Linked DNA regions of Homo sapiens. The protein of the gene in region 2 interacts with the protein of the main gene of each other region in a pairwise test. Each region holds a gene or a part of one and is shown on either strand. Other genes may lie near its edges. The genes, in order: PPIF, AGTRAP, SENP2 and SCAND1.

Evidence for each region.
Region 1: the proteins of AGTRAP (region 2) and PPIF interact in binary tests that used the Homo sapiens proteins (3 or more experiments, as listed by UniProt).
Region 3: the proteins of AGTRAP (region 2) and SENP2 interact in binary tests that used the Homo sapiens proteins (3 or more experiments, as listed by UniProt).
Region 4: the proteins of AGTRAP (region 2) and SCAND1 interact in binary tests that used the Homo sapiens proteins (3 or more experiments, as listed by UniProt).

The regions. Positions count from the first base shown.
Region 1 is NC_000010.11:79,350,452-79,355,854, reverse strand, and holds the end of PPIF (peptidyl-prolyl cis-trans isomerase F, mitochondrial precursor), read right to left. Parts: intron 4,369-5,403; coding exon 4,272-4,368; intron 3,539-4,271; coding exon 3,463-3,538; intron 2,211-3,462; coding exon of another isoform or gene 2,149-2,210; coding exon 2,013-2,148; 3' UTR 521-2,012; downstream 1-520. UniProt on the Homo sapiens protein: PPIase that catalyzes the cis-trans isomerization of proline imidic peptide bonds in oligopeptides and may therefore assist protein folding. Involved in regulation of the mitochondrial permeability transition pore (mPTP).
Region 2 is NC_000001.11:11,746,099-11,751,269, reverse strand, and holds the end of AGTRAP (type-1 angiotensin II receptor-associated protein), read right to left. Parts: intron 5,144-5,171; coding exon of another isoform or gene 5,047-5,143; intron 3,831-5,046; coding exon 3,725-3,830; intron 2,856-3,724; coding exon 2,660-2,855; intron 1,194-2,659; coding exon 1,078-1,193; 3' UTR 501-1,077; downstream 1-500. UniProt on the Homo sapiens protein: Appears to be a negative regulator of type-1 angiotensin II receptor-mediated signaling by regulating receptor internalization as well as mechanism of receptor desensitization such as phosphorylation.
Region 3 is NC_000003.12:185,589,279-185,596,315, reverse strand, and holds part of SENP2 (sentrin-specific protease 2), read right to left. Parts: intron 6,203-7,037; coding exon 6,147-6,202; intron 1-6,146. UniProt on the Homo sapiens protein: Protease that catalyzes two essential functions in the SUMO pathway.
Region 4 is NC_000020.11:35,953,119-35,959,472, forward strand, and holds SCAND1 (SCAN domain-containing protein 1), read right to left. Parts: upstream 1,385-6,354; 5' UTR 1,330-1,384; exon of another isoform or gene 1,222-1,329; 5' UTR 1,167-1,221; coding exon 627-1,166; 3' UTR 506-626; downstream 1-505. Other genes in the region: CNBD2 (cyclic nucleotide-binding domain-containing protein 2), read left to right, coding at 1,462-1,635, 4,603-4,656. UniProt on the Homo sapiens protein: May regulate transcriptional activity.

The DNA.
Region 1 (5,403 bases), on a different chromosome or scaffold from region 2:
CTCCATGACTCCAAATGACCCGACCCCAGTCACCATGACCTCAGAGTGACTCCATTAACCTAAGACTACACATAACCTCACTCAGGGAACCCCAGTGAGAAATAATTCTGTTAGATGCCCTCAAAAGGGCCCAAATTTCCTCTGAGAACTGCCTGCCTGACCACTCAACTGCCGGGCCACACCACAGCCCTGTCTACCTAGGGAAGCTCTTACCTCCAATCCTGCCTTCCCTGTGAATTTGGAAACACCTAGAAGTCAATTCCAAATGGAACTGGCTTATCCTAGGAAGTCCACTCCTAACCTCAGATGATGGAGGCTCCTTTGCTCTGGCATCCCTCCTCCTTCCTAAGACCCTGACAGGGGAAAGGTCATCATCCTTGTCACTCCAGAGTGCTTAGGAAGGTGCGCCAGACACTGCGTTATGCACTTCACGTGGATCACCACCCTACGAGGTGGGCCTTATTGTTAACCCGTGTTAGGATTCTTGTATTGCTATAAAAAAATACTTGAGACTGAGTAATTTATTATTAAAAAGGTTTAATTGGCTTATGGTTCTGCAGGATGTACAGGAAGCATGGTGCTGGCATCTGCTCAGCTTCCAGGGAGGCCTCAGGAAGCTTATGACCATGGCAAAAGGTGAAGGGGGATCAGGCATGTCACATGGTGAAAGCAGGAGCAAGAAGGGGGCAGGGGGAGGTGCCACACAATTTTAAATGACCGTATCTTGCAATAATTCACCATCAAGAAAACAGCACCAAGCCATGAAATACCCGTCCCCATGATCCAAACACCTCGTAGCAGGCCCCACCTCCAGCACTGGGGATTACAGTTCAACATGAGATTTGGCTGGGGACAAATATTCAAACTATATCGCCTCCTTATGCAGCTGAGGGAAACAGACTTGGGGTCACTAAGGGGAGGAGCTGGGATTCAGGGTGGAGCCAGTGCTCATGGCATAGGCTATGGGTGCTAAGGTCGTTTGTCTGAGCCTCATCTCTAAGGCAGGGAGGACAAGTTGCCAGCACGATGACATGAAACCATCCACATGAACGTCCTGAGCATGGCATCTGCCACGGCGAGCTCAGTAAAGATCAGCTCCAAGTCACAGACCCCTCTTCCAGAAACCAGGTACCAGTCTTCCATAGAAAATAGGATTTATTTTCACATTTAAGGTGAACACAAATCCATGTTCCAGAAATGTTTTATGCATAACACATCATGAGTAGATTGAATTTCTTTAACACACAGAAAAATCAAAGCCTACCAGGAAATGCTTCCCTCCGGAGCACAGGAGCTTACAGGCCACTTCTGTTAGCAACACAGGAATTCACATTGTCTAGGCACAGCTCAAGTGAGGTTTGTTCCCAGGTTCAACTGCTCCTACCCCCATGGGCCCTCCTCAAAAACGACAGCAGCAAACCAACAGGCTTCACAGTAACCAGGAGGAAAGATCTCAGCGGGGGAACCTTCACAAAAGCCCTGAGTTGTGTTTCAAAAGCCAAGCTCTGGGGTCTGTGGCCTGTGTCACCAACTCAGGTCACACCACAGCACGGGGAAGTTAGTGTTGCAGTTTCACTTCTAGTCAATCTTGTTAATTAAATTATCCCAATTAGGAAGACAATATTAAACAGGTATTAGAGTCCTTTTGCAAAACTGACTGTCCCCCTTGGTCAAGGAAAAGACTTTCACTTGGATGGCAACCCATCACCATCACCATGTCCAAGGCACAGATGAATCTGGGCTGGGCAATCACAGGCAATGCTTGACAAGGGGTGGGTGACATCATGTCCACAAAGATGCCCAGAAATGAGGTCGTGAGGAAGGGTGGGTATTAGGAAGCAATGTGGTGGGTCCTGGCCGAGGTCTAACATCCCTAGCAGCCTTCCTCAGGCACACTGTGACAGTGGAGTGGGCACACGTATCGTTTCAGGCACCTTGGCTGACAGCCCAACGCGGCCACCTGGGTGCATGGACATTTGCAGCTGCCACCATGCCAGCACCCTGGCCACAGATTAGCTCAACTGGCCACAGTCTGTGATGACAATCTTCTTGGATGTCCTCCCACTCTTAGAGCCGAAAGATTCTATTTTCTTCACGACGTCCATGCCCTCTTTGACGTGACCGAACACAACATGCTTGCCATCCAACCTGTGAGGACGGGTGACCCGGGTGAGCAACAGTGTAGCGCAATGTCATCCAATGCCATGGACCTGGTCATGGAATTAGTTACCGAAAACAGCAATTCTGAAAAGAATCCCCATGGAATAGCTAGATCTACCCCCAAAGCTCGATCAAGCCTTGTTGAGCGCCCCAAATACACCCCAGAGGATGCCTGGCTTCCAGGACACATTCTGTCACTCATGTTGTGACCTTGCCTCAGGCCATGTAGCCTGAATCCTGGTAACCCCATCTATCAAAAGTGGAGTATTCTTTGTTCTGCATGGGGAGGTAACAGGATACTGAAATGCTCTGAAGAAAGAAGAAGTCCATACAAATGGAACCACGTTAACGGTCATGAATGATGAGTCAAGAGTCAAAGGAACAAGGGTGGTGAAACTGCAGGAGTCCTGGGCAGCTCTCAACCCGAGAGAGTCCAATAATGTAAAAGGCGGCTCAGTCCAGCTCCAGCGAAGCTGGCGTGGTTCCAGCCAAGAGCAGAACTGCAGGATCCACTGGGGTCCCATGAAGGAGCAAAGAGCAGGCTGAGCCAGCAAGGACCTGCCCAGCCCTGCCGGCCACATCTCTTGGGCTTGGAGGCTGGACACTTCTAGTGTCTGCCCCACCTAGGTCTCCCTAAAATCCTCGGAAATGGGCTTTACCAAGTCAGCTCCCAGCCAGTTCATCCCCAGGTGCCCCAGGGCTAGGACATTTGGGACTCTGGCCAGAGAAATTTATCCCTTAGAGGAAAATGTACCAGGAAAGAGACATCCCTAAAATCCATGGGCATTGAAAACAGGGCCCTTACAGGCCTGTGGCTATCTGCAGGTTTATGATAATACAGAGGCTTCATTTGGAAATTTGCTGATATCCAAATGTCTGCTGCAGCATTGCCAAGGCTCAGCCCATGGTCAAGACAAGCCTGGGAAACTCCAGGTTAAAACCACACAAGTGGGCTTCTACTCAGTCCCTCCTGAGGCCTCATAATATGTTTTGCAACATTTCCCAAATGTATCTGGTAGAGAAACCCTTTCGTGTGTGCGTGTGAGCAGAACACACTCAGAAAATTCCAGGTGACAGCAACAATGGGAACCCGAACCATGACAGAGTTGCAGGAACAACCCCAATTCTCCCTTGATCCTTCCACTAACTTTCTCTTTCTCATACAAACACACAGCCTGGGAGAGGGCCACTGTCCCAGAGCAGAAGGCCTGGCTGTAAACTGCCTGCCCCTAAAAGTGCACGAATCCTCCTCCAGCTGCAAGGCTGCCCGCATTCCCAGAGGGCCTGGGGCAGGGAACTCACCAGTCTGTCTTTATGGTGCAGATGAAGAACTGGGAGCCGTTGGTGTTAGGACCAGCATTAGCCATGGACAGGACACCTGCAAAAACCAGCAGGGCTGAGCCACGCTGCCCCTGGAGGCACCTGCCTGGGAGGGCATTTGAAAGGGCAGACGGTGCAAACCACACCAGGGACATTCGAGTCTGCAGATCCTGGGACCCAGAAGAGGAGAACCAGGGCCCGATACCAGCCCCCCAGGGTATGCCTGCCTTTGCTGCCTGCTAGTTCTCAGTGGGGTGGCCTGAGAGGACAGGGCCTTGTGGAAGCTCTCAGTGGTAGAGCTGGGGCGGGACCTGGGGCAGGACCCCAGGACCTGACCTCCAGACATCTCCACATTCTACCTTGGGTCTTATAGGTGACACGATGCTGCCACAATAACCACTCTGGCTTCCAAACCATTTGCTTTTTATCTAAGCAAGATTTTAAATAATCCTCAAAGGACCTAAGGACCATTCTGCAACAATTCTAAGTGTCCTAGAATTTCCAACCCGAAACTCAGAGGACAAACAGGGAGGTGGCCAGGGCCTCCATTCTGCTTAAAGGTTCTTCCACAAAGTTCCCAAAGGAAACCCTGCTTTTTAAACTGAGAGATGAGAAAACTCTAGGGAAACTCAACAAGCCAGAAATGCTGAGACAGCCTACAGTGTCGCAGGGAGGAAGGAGACTCATCAGATACTGGACGGTGACTGCATGTGGCCTCTCAGGGCCTGCTGGGGCTTCCAGGCCAGGTCAGAGCTGTGGGGACACTCACCCTAGAGGAGGCCCCCACTCACCTGGCCCCACGTGCTTCAGTGTAAAGTTCTCGTCAGGAAAGCGGCTTCCGTAGATGGACTTCCCGCCTGTGCCATTGTGGTTGGTGAAGTCGCCCGCCTGTGAGCACAAAGCACCTTCTGAGTGGCTACCATGGAGCAGGCGGGGGCCACGGCCCTGGCGCTGGCAGCAGCCTCAGCCCACCCAAGCCCACCCAGTTGGCGCCCCTCAGGTAAAGGGGTCAATAAACATCCAATAAAATAAGAGCTAATAATAAGAATAATAAGCAAAAAAAAAAAAGACAAAACTTAAATATCTTTTGTCACCGTAACTACCTTTGTTTCCAAATGACTTACTTTTTGTCTGAGCAAATTTTTAAGTAATCTTCAAAAGACCTAAAGGCCATTCTGAGATGATACTTAGTGACCCAGAATTTAACCCACTCCTCCTGGAGGGCAACAAGGAAGAGGCCAGAGGCCCCCCAGTTCCCGAGTCTAGTCTGTGGGAGTACCAGCAGCTGGTCCAGACCAGCTCCCCAGGCCGAGTCCCCTCACTGTCCGCGCACTGCCCCTTACCCAGCCCAGCAGCTTTCCCAACCCTTGCAGACCCAGGACAGAGTCTGCCCAAGGCTGACATCTTTCCTCAGGCCTCAGCTAAGGCCCAGGCAGCCGTGGCCAAACCTGCATGGGGCACCCATGGCCAGAAGAGCCTGGTAGCAGCCCCTATGCCTAGCGCTGCCCAGCCCAGGCCATGGCTGGCTGCTGTTTTCCTGAGATGGGATCCGTGGGTAAGAGAGGGGAACTGACCAGCCCAGCTGAAGCATCCACAGGTGTCAATTAGGTGCTCCCTAATTGATATCCCTCCCAACGGATGACTCAGGACTCTGGTCTGGACTCCCGGTGCCACCGCCTTGTGCCAGGGAGCCCTCCCGCGCTGGAGTTCCCACCCTGGCTCAGGACTTCCACCTCAGCTCCTACTTTACCATCAGCCTTAGGGCTGGGCCAGGCCTGCCGTCCCTGTGTTCACCCCGTATCCAGGCTTCGCCGCACATAGACGTCCAGTCCCAACCCGCTGCCACTTACCACGGTACGATGACGGCCACTGGGTCAGGGTGGAGGGAATGGGGAGAGAATTCCAGGCAGGAAGGTCTTCAAA
Region 2 (5,171 bases):
CTGGACGTGTCAGCCCAAGTCAGCTGTGACCAGACACAGGGGCTACCAGGAAGAGGTCGCCCCTGCCTCCTAACCTAGCATCGTCACTGGCCTGAGGAGCAGGTCCACTGCTAACAAGTTCACCATCACTTAGGGAGCCCTCCTCACGCCAGGCACTTCACACCTGGAGCAGGCACCAACCCTTTCTAGAAGACACTGAAGGCATGCAGCTAGTAAGTGGCAGAGCAGGATTCCAAAGAGTGCCTGGGTCATCTGGTTCAGAGAAACGGATGCCCACGCACCACACCCACCAGTGTCTCTCTCTCCTGTGGCCTCTGCTAGGCCAGAGCCAGGCTCAAGCCCAGCTCAGCCAACGCACATGCCTGTTTCCTCCTGCCATGACAGAATGGGGCAGCACAGCACAGGCTCCACCTGGGAACTGGCAGGAGACATCTTCCCAGGAACAAGGCCAGGCCCCAGCCCAGCCAGGAGATTGAAGGTGGTTCAAAACACAGCCCATCTACAGAATTCCCCAAACTTTAATGCTGTGCTCTGAAAAGGGAGGCTGGAGGTTGTGGTGGGACACAGTGTTGCTGACACCTCTGGCCTCCAGCCCTGCATCCCTAGGCACCATGTGACCAGGCAGTGAGAAGGACGGGGCCTCACTCCCATGCCAGACTGCTCCTCGGGCTGAGCAGGACCTGAAGCTCTCAGGGCTTCCACCAAAGCCCAGCAAACTTGGGGGAGGCCTGAGGGGGCATCAGCAGTCCTTAAAGGCCTGAGCTTGCAACACTCAGGCAGGACTCGGCTGAGGGCCTCTGTGGTGCCACCATGGGGTAGGAGGTAAAGAGAGACCCTGGTTCCAGCCTGGGAACCAGTGGGTGCCCTGAAGGGAGGGGAGGCCTCAGGGAGTTCGGGACAGGAGTGTGCATGGTACTGGGCGGCCCATGGGGGCTCCTGGCCTCTTGGTTCAGGCAATCCCTGAGCTGGGGACACATTCCATCTTAGGTCCAAGAGACGGAGGTCAGGAGCATCCCTAGAACGACCTCCCAGGCACGAGGAAGGCCCGGGGCAGGGCCGGGCGCAGCGTGGCTGGCTTCAGTACCCTCGGGCATCTTGACTCCTGCCCTCTGGGACTGCAAAGGGATCTGCGGGCGCCTCTGCTGAGTCAATCGTCTGGTAGGCACTACGGTCCTGAGAAGACCCAAGGAAACCTAGGTGACAGGGGACATGGTGGGAAAGAAAAATGAAGGGTGAGAACTCGGGATGTTCAGCTGAGTCCAACCCAAGATCCACCCCCGCCACCCTCGGGCTGGGCATCCTGACACCATGCACAGAGACAGAGGCAGCAGCCCCAGGCCCTAAACCTTTAGCGTGTATTATTCATTCAATCCTGCCGTATCCCTGTGCGACGGGTATTTTTATTGTCCCCACTTTACAGATGAGGAGACTGTGGGTCAAAGGGATGAAGTGACTTGCCCGAGATCACACAGCTCAAAGCTGATGATGCTGGGACCCACGCCTAGGCAGCCGAGTCCAAAGCCAGGCTCCTGGCCCCTGTGCCATGGGCTTCCCCAGGCAGCACGTGCTTAGGAACCTGGGCAGAGGGACATCAGCCCCGGGCCCACGCACTCCTCTCCAGCTCCCCTCCCAGGTACAAGGACACCACATTACCATATCCAGATGGCCTCGGAGGCTGGGGCTGGGTCCAAGGCAGGGCCGTAGGGCTCCGAGTACGCCACATGCCTCACTCCCATCCCCTACTCTGTACATTCATCCCGGGACCCTGAACAAGTCCCAAAGGATGTGGGCCTCAGTTTCCTCATCTGTCCAATGGGAGAAACATTCTGGCACCCCTCACCTGGGGGCAGGCCCAGGCAGTGCTGAGGTCAGCCACTGTGGGCAGCCCCAGGCCATTCCCACCCTCAACCAGCTGGTGGCAGTCACAGGCCACGTGGGGCATCTCATCTCAGGAGTGAAAGGCAGAAGGCCACACCCTACCACCTCCCTCCACTCCTCTCAAAGAGAGAGAGAAAGGAAGAGAGAGAGAGGTGTCAGAGAGCAGGCAAATGGCTCGGCCACCAGGAGAAGGAGTACAGGAGTTCAGAGAGGGCGTGGGAGAGGGCAGGTGTAAGGCTGGGTGAGTGGGGAGGGGCCGGTGGGCAGGGAAAGTGCCCCCTGTTCAGGGCTGTCTTCACTGAGGCTCCCACAGCCTACACTGGCACGGGCTCTGCCCTGGCCACCTAGCAGTCTCTGCAGCAGGAGAGGGAAGACCCCATGTGGCAGGAAATGGGGTTCCAGTGATGGGCCCCGGTGAGAACAGAGAGGAGACCTGTAGGTGCCCGTGGCCCTCAGGATGGAGACAGCCCAGGGCTGCCCCTGGGAACTAAATGGTACCCCCAGCTGTGCCTGTGTTCTGGGCTGAGAGAAGGGCCCAGCCTCAGCTTCACAGCAGAAGAAGGTCACGGCAGACCAGGACAACCAGGGGACCCCTGGGCTCCTGCAGCAGAGACTAGGAGCTTGGACCTGTCCAGCCTAGTACAGAGCGCCCATGCCACGCTCTCCCTGCACCTTGAGCCCTGGCCCCATGGGGCAAGGCTGGCTCACTGAGGGAGAGGCTGGAGGCCAGGCAAGGGAGAGAAGGGAGCGGTGAGGAGCTGGCTGGAGGTGGTGGCCTCACCAGTGTGGACCAGGAGCTCACCCCCGCGCTCCCGGTACATGTGGTAGACGAAGCAGCAGGAGAGCGGCTTGAGCAGCAAGCTGAGGATGGCCATGCCCACGCCAAAGCGGCCCGTGTCCGTGAGGCTGACCCGCGGGTAGAAGATGCTGATGTGCACGATGTCCAGGAAGATGGTGGCCAGCAAGCCACCCAGAAACTGCAAGACACACCACACTGATGAGCACAACACCCCCACCACGCTCCGTGGCTCCCCCGCCACACACCGGATGGGAAGCCGTTTCATGCCCTGCTGTGTCCTTGGGGCTTGCGGGAAAATGGATCAAGCAAGCAGGCAGGGCCCCGCTGGGGAGCCGCTGGCTGAGACTGCAGTCTGGGGGCAGGGATGCCGGGGGCCCAGGTCTCGGTTCCACCAGAGCCTCCCTCCCCACCCATTTCCCGTCATCTCCAAGGCCATGATGGGCACAAGACTTGGCTCTAGAACCTCCATAGAGGAAGGTTCCTTGGAGTTCACCCAGTCCTTCTCCAACACAAAGAAAATCTCTTCTCAGTCATCCTGAGGCCCTGGCCTCGGCTTGAAGAGCCCGTGCGGGAGTGCTCACTGCCCCACGGGGCTCCGTGGGTGCTGAGAAGCTCCCCCTGTGGGAGGTTTCGGTGGGGCAGGGTCACCTCTACTTCCTAAAGTAGTGAAATGCCCTCTTGGCCGGGTCTCCCAGCCATATCCCCTCCCCTAAAAGAGAGCCGCAGAGGGAGGTTACAGGGGATGTTCCACTGCTCTTGCGAAGTGGCTAATCCGAGGCACTGGTGGGACCCACCCCATGGCTTTCCTCAGGGAGATAATGGCAGACTTGGGGTTCTCTAAGCCAGACAAGAAGAGCAGCAGGCTGGGCTCCTGAACACAGGCATGGGCCGGAGCCCAGGAGGCTGATGAACAGGCTTTAGACAATGGGAAGTGGTGGCCCAAGGAAGAGGGGGAAGATTGGGATGGGACGGGGTAGCAGAGCCAGGCTATGTCTTGCCCTGTGCTGCGGCTCCCCGCCTTGCCGCCTCTCCCCCACCCTGGCTCACCATGCTTATGGCGTCGATGGAGTCCCGCTGAGCCACAGCCCACACGCCCAAGGCCAGGATGGTGAAGTTGGCCCAGGCATAGGAGCCTGAGAATACAATGCAGCCCCTGTAGGAAGAGGTAGCTCAGTCCCGTCAGGAGGCCACCACCCCGCAGGTCACCTCCCTCCTGCTCCGGCGTCTCAGGGCCTCCTCCCAGAACATGCCATAGTCTTCGAGGCCACCCGGCTGTGTGCCAGCAAATCCCATGGGCTCCGCCTCCCACCCAGACCCTGGATCTGGCTGTGTCCCTGTAGATCCAAAGCACCTCCCTCTCCTGGCAGATGACAGCCGCAGCCACCCTGTGCCAGCGTCCTGACTGCCACTCTGTTCTCTAAACAGCAACCGGTAACGTAGTCAGATGCTGTCACTCCTCTGCTAAAAATCCTCCAACAGTTTTCTGTCCCATTTGGAATAAAATGCAGACTCTTCACCAGGGCCTAAGGGGCCTGTGGGATCCCGGACACAGCCTCGCCCTACTGACCTCCCAGCCACTGCCCTGTGCGGCGGGCGCCCTCTACCCTGACACCTGGCCCTCCTTTTGTCATTCACCCTGAGACTCGAATGTTCACCCTGAGACTCCTTCCCTTGCCCACCGGTGCTAAGTACAAGTTCGTCACTTTCCTAACACAAGGCCCGCCCTATTCTATTTTTAGGGTACTGATACTGACATTGTTGACTTACTTGTCAATCCAATCAAAATCATAGTGAACACCGATCACTTGCTAGTACCTAGCATGGTTCTGTTTTAAATTAACTCATTCATGTACATTTATGTTAATAACCATAGGAAGGAAGTATTATTGTTACCCTCACTTTAGAGATGAGGAAACTGAGACACAATGAGGTTAAGTAACTCGCCCAAGGTCACACAGTTGCTGAGCAGTGGGGCTGGGATTTGGAGTCTGGCTGGAGAGGCCATGCTCTTGCTCACCCTGCTGTGCTGCAAGGAAGACTCAGGGGGACAGGGACTGAGTCTACCTCATTTATTACCAAACCCACTGGGCCTTGCCTTCCCCTGCATGCAGCGGGCGCTTCCTAGATTTATAGGACATTCACTAAAGTGTAACATGCAGAAGACATGTGCAAGGCAGGTGTGGAGTGCCATTCGGTTCAATAGGTCTTTGAATAAACCATCTTATCTTTTGCTTTTAAGAAAGCAGGTGCCTGGGTCCCAGCCCAGAATCACCAACTCAGAATCTTGGGGAAGTGTGACTAAGAAATCTGTATTTTGGCCCTGCTTCTCAAGGTCGTGAATCATGATGGTTACAGTTCACATTACTCACAGCTGTTGCCCTGTGCGCTGCACTTCGAAGTTTGCAAAGTGCACAGGTGAGCTCAATGGTTTCCAGTCTTGGTTTGGCAGAGAAATGTCTCCAGAAGCTCAACAGATTAAAAGAGATGGTAAAGG
Region 3 (7,037 bases), on a different chromosome or scaffold from region 2:
TCTAAGATAGAACAAGACTATCCCTCTAGTGGAGATGTGTTAGAAGATCTTAGGCTGGGCACGGTGGCTCAAGCCTGTAATCCCAGCACTTTGGGAGGCAAAGGCGGGCAGATCACTTGATGTCAGGAGTTCAAGACCAGCCTGACCATCATGGCGAAACCGTCTCTACTAAAAATACAAAAATTAGCTGGGCGTCATGGCACACACCTATAATCCCAGCTACTCTGGAGGCTGAGGCAGCAGAATCGTTTGAATCCAGGAAGCGGAGGTTGCAGTGAACCAAGATGGCACCACTGTACTCCAGTCTGGGCAACAGCGTGAGACTCCATCTCAAAATAAATAAATAAATTAGCTGGGCCTGGTGGCACATGCCTGTAATTCCAGCTACTTGGGAGGCTAAAGCAGAAGAATCGTTGGAACCCGGGAGGTAGAGGTTGCAGTGAGGTGAGATCACGGCACTGCACTCCAGTCTGGGTGACAGAGGGAGATCCTGTCTCAAAAAAAAAAAAAAAAAAAAATCTCAGGCTCACCCTTCCTTGCCACCAAAAATAAAAGGAAAGGGTAGGTTTCAGTGCTTTCCTCACTTCCTCCTTTTATTACACTACCTCTTTCTCACTTTCTATATATCTGATGTAAGCTTTCTACAATATCCTATGTCCTAATTAAGGGTATTTGAAGACGCTAGTTTGAGAAAAACAGAACATCACATTAGCCATTCTGCTTTAGAGAAAGATAGACTGCAATGGTAGCTTTTAAGCAGTGCTCCAGAACATGTAAACTACTTTCCAGAAACATAGGGGAATAACAAACAAAAGGGAAAAAGTAATGGCCAGGTAAAGCACAATCCAATTTGAGAAATTTGCTAATAGTTATAAGTACCAAACTATGCAAATGAGTTGTTTTTCATTTTAGGAATCAGAGAATTCCAGGTTATCCCCTTCTAATAGTGCTGAGGGATAGTACACACTCTGCTGCACTTTCTAAGGAGGAGAAGAAGAGCTTTAGCGATTGATGCTTAACCCACAGTCTGTCATCCAGACTCTAGAGGACAAGAAGCCTCTTGGTAACATAGCAAATTGTGGCTACTAAACAATATCATAATATTTATTTTCCTACGAATGTTATCAAAATCTCGGTATGCCCCTGAGATTATGTCAAAAGATCTCACTGATTTTTTTAAAAAACAGAAGGCCTGCCTCATCTGTAAAATGGGGAAAAGATCACCTTACTTCCCTGAAACTAGACTACATAGATCTCTTAAAATCTCTTTCACCTTTAAGGTCATGAGCCTGAGCCAGGTACGGTGGCTCACACCTGTAATCCCAGCACTTTGGGAGGCCAAGGTGGGTGGATCACTTGAGGTCAGGAGTTCAAGACCAGCCTGGCCAACACGGTGAAACCCTGTCTCTACTAAAATACAAAAATTAGCTGCACTTTGGGAGGCCAAGGAGGGTGGATCACTTGAGGTCAGGAGTTCGAGACCAGCCTGGCCAATATGGTGAAACTCCGTCTCTACTAAAATATAAAAATTAGCTGGGCATGGTGGTGCACACCTGTAATCCCAGCTACTCAGGAGACTGAGGCAGGAGAATCGCTTGAACCTGGGAGGTGGAGGTTGCAGTGAACCGAGATTGTGCCACTGCACTCCAGCCTGGGTGACACAGCGAGACTCTGTCCCAAAAAAAAAAAAAAAAAGATCATGAGCCTGAAATTCTGAGGTCTTCTTTCTTTTCTTTTACCCTTGCTTTGCTTTTTTTTCTCTCAAAAGCAACCAATGGAGTTGTACTGTCCAACACAGTAGCTAGTAGCCAGATATGGTTACCTAACTTAAAGTTTTATTAGAATCAAATAAAGTTTAAAATTCAGTTCCTCAGTTGAACTAGCCACATTTCGAGTGCTCAACAGTTATCACTGCAGGAAGTTCTCTTGGGCAGCACTTTACAGGCCTTTACAAACTCTGCTACCCACCGCTTACCCTTTGGTTTAGATTCCCTTCTACAATTTGCCATTCAGAAAATCATACTACATATTTAATGGGAATGATGCAATAAGTGATCCTTAACATAGAATCCATAAAACAGATGATTGTCCTAAATAATTAAGTCAGAAACCTTCTGTAATACCAACGTTTGTGTGTGTTTTTTTTTTTTAACCACATCCAAGTACAAGCTATTTATATTTTTCTTTAAAACTGACTTCCTTTTTTGGCTTAAAAAAAAAAGATAATTTTAAATTACTACTGTATATGTAAAGCCAACATCACCTGCCTTATAAAGAAATGAAAACACAGCCGGGTGAGGTGGCTCACGCCTGTAATACCAACACTTTGGGAAGCCGAGGCGGGCGATCACTTGAGGTCAGGAATTCGAGACCAGTCTGGCCAACATGGTGAAACCCTGTCTCTATTAAAAACACAAAAATTAGCCGGGCATAGTGGTGGGCGCCTGTAATCCCAGCTACTCGGGAGGCTGAGGCAGGAGAATCACTTGAACCTGGGAGGTGGAGGTTGCAACAAGCCAAGATCGCACCATTGCACTGCAGCTTGGGCAACGAGAAAGAAACTCCGTCTCAAAAAAAAAAAAAAAAAGAAATGAAAACACAATAATACTAAGTTCTAGTTGGGCCTGTTAAAAAATGGGAGATTAGCATATATTAGACAAGTATTGAAGATATACTAGCATTAAATCAAGATTTTCTGTGTGAAATAAACAGGATGTGAGCACCTCAAATAAATAACTGAAAAGGATACACCTTTCTTAGTACATAATCATCATTCAAATGTTACATAATGCTGTGAATGTTGAATCCCCTAAAATCATTTCCTAAATTGGTATCTATCCTGTGCTTTGGGAAATACTGTTCTAATGAATTTAGTATAAATTCCTGTCATTTGAAAATCCTTGGCCGGGGATGGTGGTTCACGCCTGTAATCCCAACATTTTGGAAAGCCAAGGTGAGAGGATCACTTAATTAAGCCCAGGAGTTCGAGATCAGCCTGAGCAATATAGCAAGACCCTGTCTCTATTAAAAAACTAAACAAAACAAAACAGAACGATAATTTGATCTACCTGTCTTCAGCCATTTTTTTTCCCTGAGCTCTATTCACTATTTCTTGAATTTACACAACTTTCCCATACTATTCCCTCTGCCTAGAATATTTTTCCTTCCTATTGCTCTCCTTTGATATCCTATCCATCCTTCAAGACCTGGGCTAACATACTAACTCATACTAACTCCCGCAAACATTTACTGAGACTCGATGAGCTGAAAATTGGATAGGATTTTGTTACTATCTTTGTTTTTTTATTTTTTATATTTTCATTGACATTAGCATTATTATGTGATTGTCTTATACCCCCTACCATATTATCATATAAGGTCCTTAAAAATGGAGACCCAGGCCGGGCACGGTGGCTCACGCCTGTAATTCCAGCACTTTGGGAGGCCAAGGCAGGTGGATCACTTGAGGTCAGGAGCTTGAGACCAGCCTGGCCAACATGGCGAAACCCTGTCTCTACTAAAAATACAAAAATTAGCCGGGTGTGGTGGTGGGCACCTGTAGTCCCAGCTACTTGGGAAGCTGAGGCAGGGGAATCACTTGAACCTGGGAGGCGGAGGTTGCAGTGGGCCGAGAATGTGCCATTGCACTCCAGCCTGAGCAACAGAGCAAGACTCCATCTCAAAAAAAAAAAAAAAGGAGACCCTGTCTTACTAATTTTTGTATTTTCTGTAAAACCTAACACATTGGTTAGCACTGAGACATGCTCAATAAGTACTCACTGAATTTAAACGAAATATTAACACAAATATGTCCACACTCAATTACCACATCTGGAGGTAGACCCAAATTTATAATCATTTTTGAGAAAGAGGAATATATTATTATAGCATTTTACTATGCCTTTTTCCTTTAATCTACTTTTATTTTCTTTATCCATTCAGATATACTGAAGTAAAAGACTTGGCTGGGCACAGTGGCTCATATCCATAATCCCGGCACTTTGGAAGGGCAGGAGTTCCAAGATCAGCCTGGGCAACATATGGAGACTCAGTATCCACATACAAAATAATTTGCCAGGTGTGGTGGTATGGGCCTATAGTCCCAGCTACTCAGGAGACTGAGGCAGGAGGATTGTGTGAGCCCAGGAGTTTGAGACTGCAGTGAGCTACGATCGTGCCACTGCACTGAAGCCTGGGCAACACAGTGATACCCTTGCCTCTTACAAAATTAAAAAAAAAAATTGTTGATGACAAGATCAAGACAGAGCAAGATCCTGTCTCAAAAAAAAAAAAAAAAAAAAAAAGAAATATTACCGGTTCTTAAAGACAGGAGTATTCTTTCAAAATGCCACTGCTGCCTATTTTCAGCCTGGACAATGTGGCAAGACCCTGTTTCTACAAAAAAAATACAAAAATCAGCTAGGTGTGATAACGTGCCTGTAGGCCCAACCAACTACTTGGGAGGCTGAGATGGAAGGATCACCTGGGCCCAGGGAGGTGGAGGCTGCAGTGAGCCATGATTATGCCACTGCATCCCAGCCTGGGTGACAGAATGAGACCCTGTCTCGAAAAAAAAAAATAGAAAAGATGGGTTCCCTCAGCCATCTGAACTAGAGTCACCTCAGTTTGAAACATTTACAACATTTCCTCCTTAAAAATAAGTAGGGCCAGGCGCGGGGGCTCACGCCTGTAATCCCAGCACTTTGGGAGGCTGAGGCAGGTGGATCACGAAGTCAGGAGACTGAGACTATCCTGGCTAACATGGTGAAACCCCGTCTCTACTAAAAATACAAAAAATTAGCCGGGCATGATGGCGGGCGCCTGTAGTCCCAGCTACTCAGGAGGCTGAGGCAGGAGAATGGTGTGAACCCGGGAGGTGGAGGTTGCAGTGAGTCGAGATTGCACCACTACACTCCAGCCTGGGTGACAGAGCGAGACTCCATCTCAAAAAATAAATAAATAAGAAGTATCTTTTCTTTGTAGAATGATTTAGAATTTTAAAATGCACAGTCTACACCTAGGCTTATTTACCTGCAAGGATTAGACAAGTCCCTGGTAACAGTAGTTACCTCTAGAAAAGATAAGAAAGGGATAGGAAAGAGACTTTCTTGGGTTGGGTGCGGTGGCTCACGCCTGTAACCCCAGCACTTTGGGAGGCCGAGGCGGGCAGATCACGAGGTCAGGAGATGGAGACCATCCTGGCTAACACGGTGAAACCCCATCTCTACTAAAAATACAAAAAAACTAGCCAGGTGTGGTGGTGGGTGCCTGTAATCCCAGCTACTCGGGAGGCTGAGGCAGGAGAATGGCGTGAACCTGGGAGGCAGAGCTTGCAGTGAGCCGAGATTGCGCCACTGCACTCCAGCCTGCGACAGAGCAAGACTCTGTCTCAAAAAAAAAAAAAAAAAAAAAAAGGAGACTTTCTTTTTTTTTTTTTTTTTTTTTTTTGAGATGGAGTGTCGCTCTGTCGCCCAGGCTGGAGTGCAGAGTGCAGTAGCAGATTCTTGGCTCACTGCAACCTCCGCCTCCCAGGTTCACGCGATTCTCGTGCCTCAGCCTCCCGAGTAGCTGTGACTATAGGCGTGCACCACTTGGCTAATTTTTTAATGTTTAGTAGAGATGGGGTTTCACCATGTTGGCCAGGCTGGTCTCAAACTCCTGACCTCAAGTGATCCTCCCACCTCAGCCTCTGAAGTGCTGGAATTAAAGGTTTGAGCCACCACGTCGGGCCAGGAAAGAGACTTAAGTTTTTTTGTTTTTTTTTTTCCTGACACAGTCCTGCTCTGTCGCCCCAGGCTGAAGTGCAATGGCACCATCTTGGCTCACAGCAACCTCCACCTCCCAGGTTCAAGCGATTCTCCTGCCTCAGCCTCCCGAGTAGCTGGGATTACAAGCTCCTGCCACCACAGCAAGCTAATTTTTGTATTTTTAGTAGAGACAGGGTTTTGCCATGTTGGCCAGGCTGGTCTCAAACTCCTGACCTCAGGTGATCCGCCTGCCTTGGCCTCCCAAAGTGCTAGGATTACAGCCACTGCGCCCGGCCAAGACTTACTTTTTACCAGATACTTTTTACCTTTTGAATTTTGTTCCATGCATATATTTTTCCTATTTAAAAACTAAAAATTTTTAAAATTTATATTCAGTACCTAATCTTGGTCTTTTGGCTGGTATTTCATCAGTGTCCACTGTAGAAAACAGAGTGCTGAAAAAGAGAAAGAAAAAAATATATATATATAGATTTACACACACATTCATTTCTGTAAGTAAACTTACTATTCATATAACACATCCCCCTTCTATCACTTTGTCATAAAATGAGATCCAACTGATGTTTTAAAAGAGAATGCTGGTGGGACACAGTGGCTCGTGCCTGTAATCCCAGCACTTTGGGAGGCCAAGGGGGAGGATCGCTTGAGCCTTGGAGTTTGACATCAGCCTGGGCAACAAAGTAAGACCTCATCTCTACGATAAAAAAATAAATAAAAAATTAGCCAGCCTTGGTGGTAAGTGAGTGTGGTCCCAGCTACACTAAGGCAGGAGGATCACTTGAGCCCAGGAAGTAAGGCTGCAGTGAGCCCAGGTCATGCCACTGCACTCCAGCCTAATCAAAAGAGTGAGACCTTGTTTTAAAAAGAAATAAAACTAAAAATAAAAGCAAAACAAAAGAGAGAATGCTATTCTATAGTAGGCTTTTCACATGCGAAGACTTACTGCTACAGTTTCAACTATTTGAGAGAGAAACAAACTTCTTACCAAATAATAATTTGCCATCTGGTTAAAGTACAAACTTAAAACTGGCCAAAGTCACTTAGCTAGTAAATGAACCCAGGTAAGAGTTTAGGACAGTATTTTCTCTTTCGCTCCAGAAATGATTTAAAAACAACAAACAAGCAATTTCCTTTTGAAAATGATCCCCAAAGAAAGCCATCTTTTACTTTAGGTGACAGTATTAATATGAACAGCCTTAAAAGACAATTCTTTTTTACTGTTTTTTCTTTTGTGTGTGTGTAAGGGAGTTAAAAAAAACTGTTCTACAA
Region 4 (6,354 bases), on a different chromosome or scaffold from region 2:
GTAATGTAAATAATCCATTACTTCAACTAGTTCTGCTTTATTCCTACCACAGGCCTAAAATTTGGCAAGGAAGTTGAGCAAGCCTGGCGGCATAAGCCAGAGCTCACAAGAACTAGCCTATCTCTGTGAAGGTGTGCAGTAAACACTTCACATTAAAATGGCCCAGTAACTTGGACATTTTGGGAAGCCTGTACCCAAAGGGCAGGTGCAAGTTGGTGCCCATATTGGTATAGAGGTAGCCAGTTAAGTGAGCATTTAATAGAGCCAGCTATTTTGCGTGTAAGAAACCCAAGTGGGTCCTTGGGAGCCCAGGTGAAAAACTTCCCATGTGTGGTAGAGGGATAACCTAGGTTCAGTCAACATCTAAAGATCCCACTATAGCCAACGAAGGCCTTATTGTTACGGACTCCCAACTTCGTTTCGCCACCAGCCAGAAAGGCGGTAGGAAACAGGCTTGGTAAAATAAACCCAATAAGAACGAATGAAAGAGACACACCAGACCACAGGCGCTGCCAAAACTCATTTTTCATTAACACGGGGTGGGGTCCCAGGCTCAGGCCCCCGGGCCCGATCATGGCCCCAGTCCGCACAGAGCGCCCGGCCCTGGCCGCCCGCAGCTCCACCGCTCAGCCAGTGATGCGCACATCCGTGCGGCGGCGGATCCGCCGGGCCCGAGCCGCCTCGGGCAGGATGGCGAGCAGCTGCTCTTGCACCAGCATCTCCACGATCTGCTCCTTGGTGCGGATGTCAGGCCGCAGCCACTGGCGGGACAGCTCCCGCAGCTGCCGGAAAGCCTCCCGGGGACCCGCCGCATCCTGGTAGCGGAACTGCCGGAAACGCTGGCGGAACGTCTCGGGACCGAGTCTAGAGCCGGCGGGGCCTGGTGTGGAGCGCGCTTCAGCTTCGGCCTGAGGCGCTACGCTCACGGGTGCGGGCCCGAGAGGCAGCTCCAGGGCCGCGGAGGCCGCAGCTCGGGGCGTAGGGATGGCTTCAGGGACCGCGGCGTTGGGACTGGAAGGCTCAGGGGCAGGCGGTGAGGCCTCTGGCAGCGAGGAGCCCACACAGTTACGCTCAGGGGCTGAGCTCGAACCGGCTCCTTCCAGTTTCTCCGGTGGCACCGCCGCGGGACTCCCAGTGGCCGCCAAGATCGGCTCCGTAGCCGCCATAACTCCAGCTCCGGGCGTCACTCTTTGTCCGGTAGCTGTGTGCTCAGCACTGCGTCTGCGCGGGGGTGGGGTGAGCAGGGAGACGTTTCCGGTTAAAGGGCAGAGCTCGCGTCACCCTTGAGGGAGTCGGACTCGGGACCGGCCGAGAGTGTGCGGAGCTTACCTGCACCAGCGAAGCGCCTGCGGCAGCCGGAAGCGAAAGTCTCTGGCTTCTCTGCGTCCAGGTCGGCGCGCGAGCACCCGGAAGCCGCTTGCGGGCTCCCGGAAGCGGCGCCCTCTAGCGTTCTCGAGTCGCATGAGGCGGCTGCTGCCCTCGCGGTGCGGGAGGGCGAGCTGCGCGTGGCCTGGGCTCCTTCCGAATGGTGGCGCCTCTGAGCGCCAGTTCGAGGAGGAGTCGGAGGAGGAGCCTGAATGTTTGGAGATAGACTTCAAGTCCCGGACCTTATCCGTGCGCCGCTTCGGTTTGCAGGTGACCTTTGCGTGCGGGCGCCCCTTCTGATTGACCCTGATGAGCTGTAGCTCTGATGGCCCCTCCTTCGGGAATGATTAGGGTGACGGCTGGCCGGGGCTCGTTCGAGTGGCGCCCGGCCGGTGGTGACCCGAACAGGAGAGCGGGACGGCGACCATTCTCTCGGGAGGGGCCCATCTGGAGAAAGTCCTCTCGCTTGGTCAAACTAGGAGGGCGATAGCACCGGCCTTACTGCGACGATGACAAAGTACAACACACCGTCTGGCGCGAAGGAGATGCTCGAGAACCCTTTGCTGTTGTTATTTTTCGCGTGTCCTCCGAAACCAAGGGAAATGCGGCTCTGTGGGTTCTGTTAACGTCAGCATTTAATAAGTGAACTCTAAATGCATTGCCCCTTATGGTGGCCGCTGGCCTCCTGAGTTGACTCAGCTCTTGCAACGTAGCTAGTTGATAACCCTCGAAATATAGCGAATTGAGATGTGCTATATTGTAAAATACGGGACTTAGTACGAAAAAACTGATGTAAAAATTATCTCAATACTTTTTAATACTGATTACATGTTGGAATATAATGTTTTGCATATATTGGGTCAAATAAAAATGTTATTAATTTCACCTGTGTTTTTACTTTTTAAATGCAGCTTCTAAAAACATTTAAATTGCATGTGCAGTTTACATTATATTTCTGTTGAGCAGCCTTGGGTTAGAGTGTTGGAGTGAGGCTACCTTGGTGGAATCCCCTTTGACGATACCCAGCTCAGAGTTGTTAGGAGGATTAAATAAATTAAGCCGTTGGAGAGAAAGGGCTTTTAAGAAGTTTGCTCTTGTTTTTATTAGGTAAACTGCTTGCTATCTCTGAGCTACTGTTTTCTTATCAGTAAAATGTGGATGTAATAGAACTTACCTCTCAGAGGTAATTGAGAATTCAGTGAGATGATGTAGGTAAAAGCACGTGGCCCTGACAGCCCTCGGCCAGGTGGTTTTCTGTTTGGTAGCTGACTCACAAATAGTTTTGTTTTTGTTTTTGTTTTTGTTTTGAGACTGAGTCCTCCGCCTACCGGGTTCAAGCGATTCTCCTCCCTCCGCCTCCCGAGTAGCTGGGATTACAGGCGCCCACCACCACACCCGGCTAATATTTTATATTTTTGGTACAGATGGAGTTTCACCGTGTTGGCCAGACTGGTCTCGAACTCTTGACCTCAGGTGATCCACTCTCCTCAGCCTCCCAAAGTGCTGGCATTACAGGCGTGAGCCACCGTGCCGGGCCACAAATAGGTTTTATATCCTCATTTTACAGAAGGGGAAACTGAGGCCCTCAAAGGACAGGGGCCTCATATGAAAGGTTTTCTATGACCTTGCAGTCCTTTTGAGCCCGTGCAGGATGGAGGAGCAGGTTTAACAACCATTAACATGCCATTAGCCCTGATATAAAACTTACCCCTACCATAGGATGTTTCCTTTGGATGGGTAGAAGTGGACCCTCATGAAATCATTTCCATAGCCTGAAAACCTTGAAAGTCGTTGCAGTGGGCCTTTAATGTTTTTTAGTTGCTGACATGTAAAAATTGGGAGATTTCACATGCAAATCTGGATTTCTAATTTTTCTTGAAAAAACGGAAGAGCTGGCCACACTGGACCCAAATTCCTGCTGGTCAACAATCAGCTGACACTGAGTAGAGACGACTTCCTTTAGACAAGATACTCTGTCCCATTTGGTCTCAATCTCAACCATTCCCTATGGTTCTCTGAAATAGAATGTTGTTTGCATTTACTGTTGCTCTCAGGTTGTTGCTTTATTTAGAGTTGATATTTTTCTCTCTTTTCTTTTTAGAGGTGAGAAAGCAGGGTCTTAGTGTTTGTTATGCCTACTGGCTTCAAACCTTGACTTCTGTCTGGCCCCTCAGTAGTTGGGTTTGCTGCCCAGAGTGACCAACAGTGCTATTCCCTGTGTGGTAACAGGTACTCAGTTTCTAGGCCTAAGGGAGCACACTAACCCTTCTGTGGAGGCAAGAGGTGATAGAAGTCTTCACTGGGGAGGAGACTTCAAGCTGAGACTCAAGAACAAAATGGGTGGGGCTCAGGGACATTCCAGGTAGAAGGTACTGCCTGTACAAAGGCACATAGTGAGTAGGAGCAAAACTGTGGAAACTGCAGGCTATATGGGAAAGTGGTTGGGATCTGGAGAAGGGGTGAGAGATGAGGTTGGAACACTGGTGGGGGTTAAATCATAAATGTCCTAGAATTCCATGTTTAAAATTTAGTTATTATCTTCTTGTGAAAGGGAATGAACTTTTGTGGCACCTGGAATCATGAGATGTTATGTTAGATCTCTAGTCTATTTCTTCCATCCCTATTGAAATCGTGAATTATTAGAGATAGGAGGAGGGACCTGAGAGATCTATTAGAATCATTGAATGTCAGACTGGAAGGGCCCTTAGAAATGGAATTTAAAAATCCAGCCCTTTGTGGGCCGGTAAGCCTGCTTTAAAGTGATTCAGCAGTAAAAAAATAATGTGGAGGGAATAAATGAAACAAGATTGGCTCAGTAGTTGGCCGGGCGCGGTGGCTCATGCCTGTAATCCCAGCACTTTGGGAGGCATAGGCAGGCGGATCACCTGAGCTCAGGAGTTCAAGACCAGCCTGGGCAACATGATGAAACCCTGTCTCTACTAAAAATACAAAAAATTAGCTGGGCTCGGTGGCTCATGCCTGTAATCTCAGCACTTTAGAAGGCTTGAAAGATTGGCAGTATGTACACTCTACTTTGGTATATGCTTGAAAATGTCCATGATAAAAGTTAAAACATTCAGATTCCCAGAATCTGAAAAAAAACATATAATGCCTCTTCTTCGAAAAGGGATGCAGTTATCTACTTTCATGTAATTTACATATATCCTTGAACCCTCCCAGAAGTCCCAGATTAAGCTTAAAATATACATTTATATTTCATTCTTTTGAATTTTGCAGATTGAGAAACCAAGATGTCAGAAGATGAAGGATTGGTCCAAAATAAGAAAGCTAGTAAGTGGTTTCATGAGGACAGAAATCTTTTGACTTTTAGTCCAAACTCTTATCTTATTAGGCCTCTTTATCCCTAGATTGGGAGTTCACTTGGGAAGGGATCATAACTCATTCATCTCATATCACTTAGCTTCCAACACAAGGCCTGACTCCTAGGTAGCTTCAGTGTTGATTAAAGGAAAGAGGACAAATGTGGATTGCAGACCATCCCTGAGAAGGCAGAGCTCTCATATGAGTCCCAGACTCTTTCAGAGACCTCAGTGCCTTTTGATGGCACTTGGTTGTTGAGGGTTGTGGAAAAGAAGCTTGGATACTTATTTTCTTTTTTATCAGAGCCATCACACTGGAGAATACGTCTTTTAAAAAGCTTTTCATTGGCCAAGCATGGTGGCTCATGCCTGTAATCCCAGCACTTTGGGAGGCCGAGGCAGGCGGATCACGAGTTCAGGAGTTTGAGACCAGCCTGGCCAATATAGTGAAATCCCATATCTACTAAAAATACAAAAAATTAGCTGGGCATGGTGGCAGGTACCTGTAATCCGAGCTACTTGGGAGGCTGAGGCAGAAGAATCACTTGAACCCGGGAGGCAGAGGTTGCAGTGAGCTGAGATCGTGCCACTGCACTCCAGCCTGGGTGACAGTGTGAGACTTCATCTCAAAAAAATAAATAAGTTTTTTATTTGGAAATAATTATAGATTCATAGAAGGTTGCAAAAATAGTTCAGAGAGGTTTCATGTACCCTTCAGTCAGTTTTCCCTAATGGTAACATCTTGCATAACTATAGTACAATATCAAAACCAGGAAATTGACATTGGTACAATCCACAGACTTTATTCACATTTTCCCAGTTTTACATACATGCATTTGTGTGTGTGTGTGTGTGTGTAGGTCTATGCAATTTTATCGTGTGTGGATTAATGCAACTACTACCACAATATCTAGAACTGTCTGATCACCACAGAGATCCCTCGTGCTATCTCTTTATAATTGCATCCATTCATCTTCCCTTCCCCTATCCCTAACCACAGGCAACCACTAATCTATTCTCCATGTCTATAACTGTGTTATTTAAAAAATGTTACATACCTGGAATCATATAGTGTATAATCATTTGGGCTTGGCTCTTTCCACTTGGCACAATTCCCTGGAGATTCACCCAAGTGGTTGCTTGTATCAATAGTTTGTCCTTTTTATTGCTGAGTAGTAATCTATGGTATAGATGTACCATGGTATATTTAACCATCCATTGAAGGACATTTGGGTTGTCTCCACCTTTGAGCTGTTACAAATAGAACTGCTATGAGTTATTTTATGACATGGCTTTGGGTAATCACTTATCTTTCTGAGCCTGGAAATAGTAACTACCACACAGGATGGTTCTGAATAGTCGAGGAGGAGAAATATATATAAGGGAACTGGTGCAGGGTTTGGCACAGAATATATACTTCGTCATTTTTTTAAAACCGATGGTTATGAAGAGATAATACTTCCTTGAATATGTAAGTTCTAGTATGTAGTATTTTTAAAAGTCACAGGCATTGATATTATTATTAGTGTATTAGTCTGTTCTCATGCTGCTAATAAAGACATACCCAAGACTGGGTAATTTATAAAGGAAAGACGTTTAATGAACTCACAGCTCCACGTGGCTAGGGAGGCCTCACAATCGTGGTGGAAGACAAGGAGGAGCAAGTCAC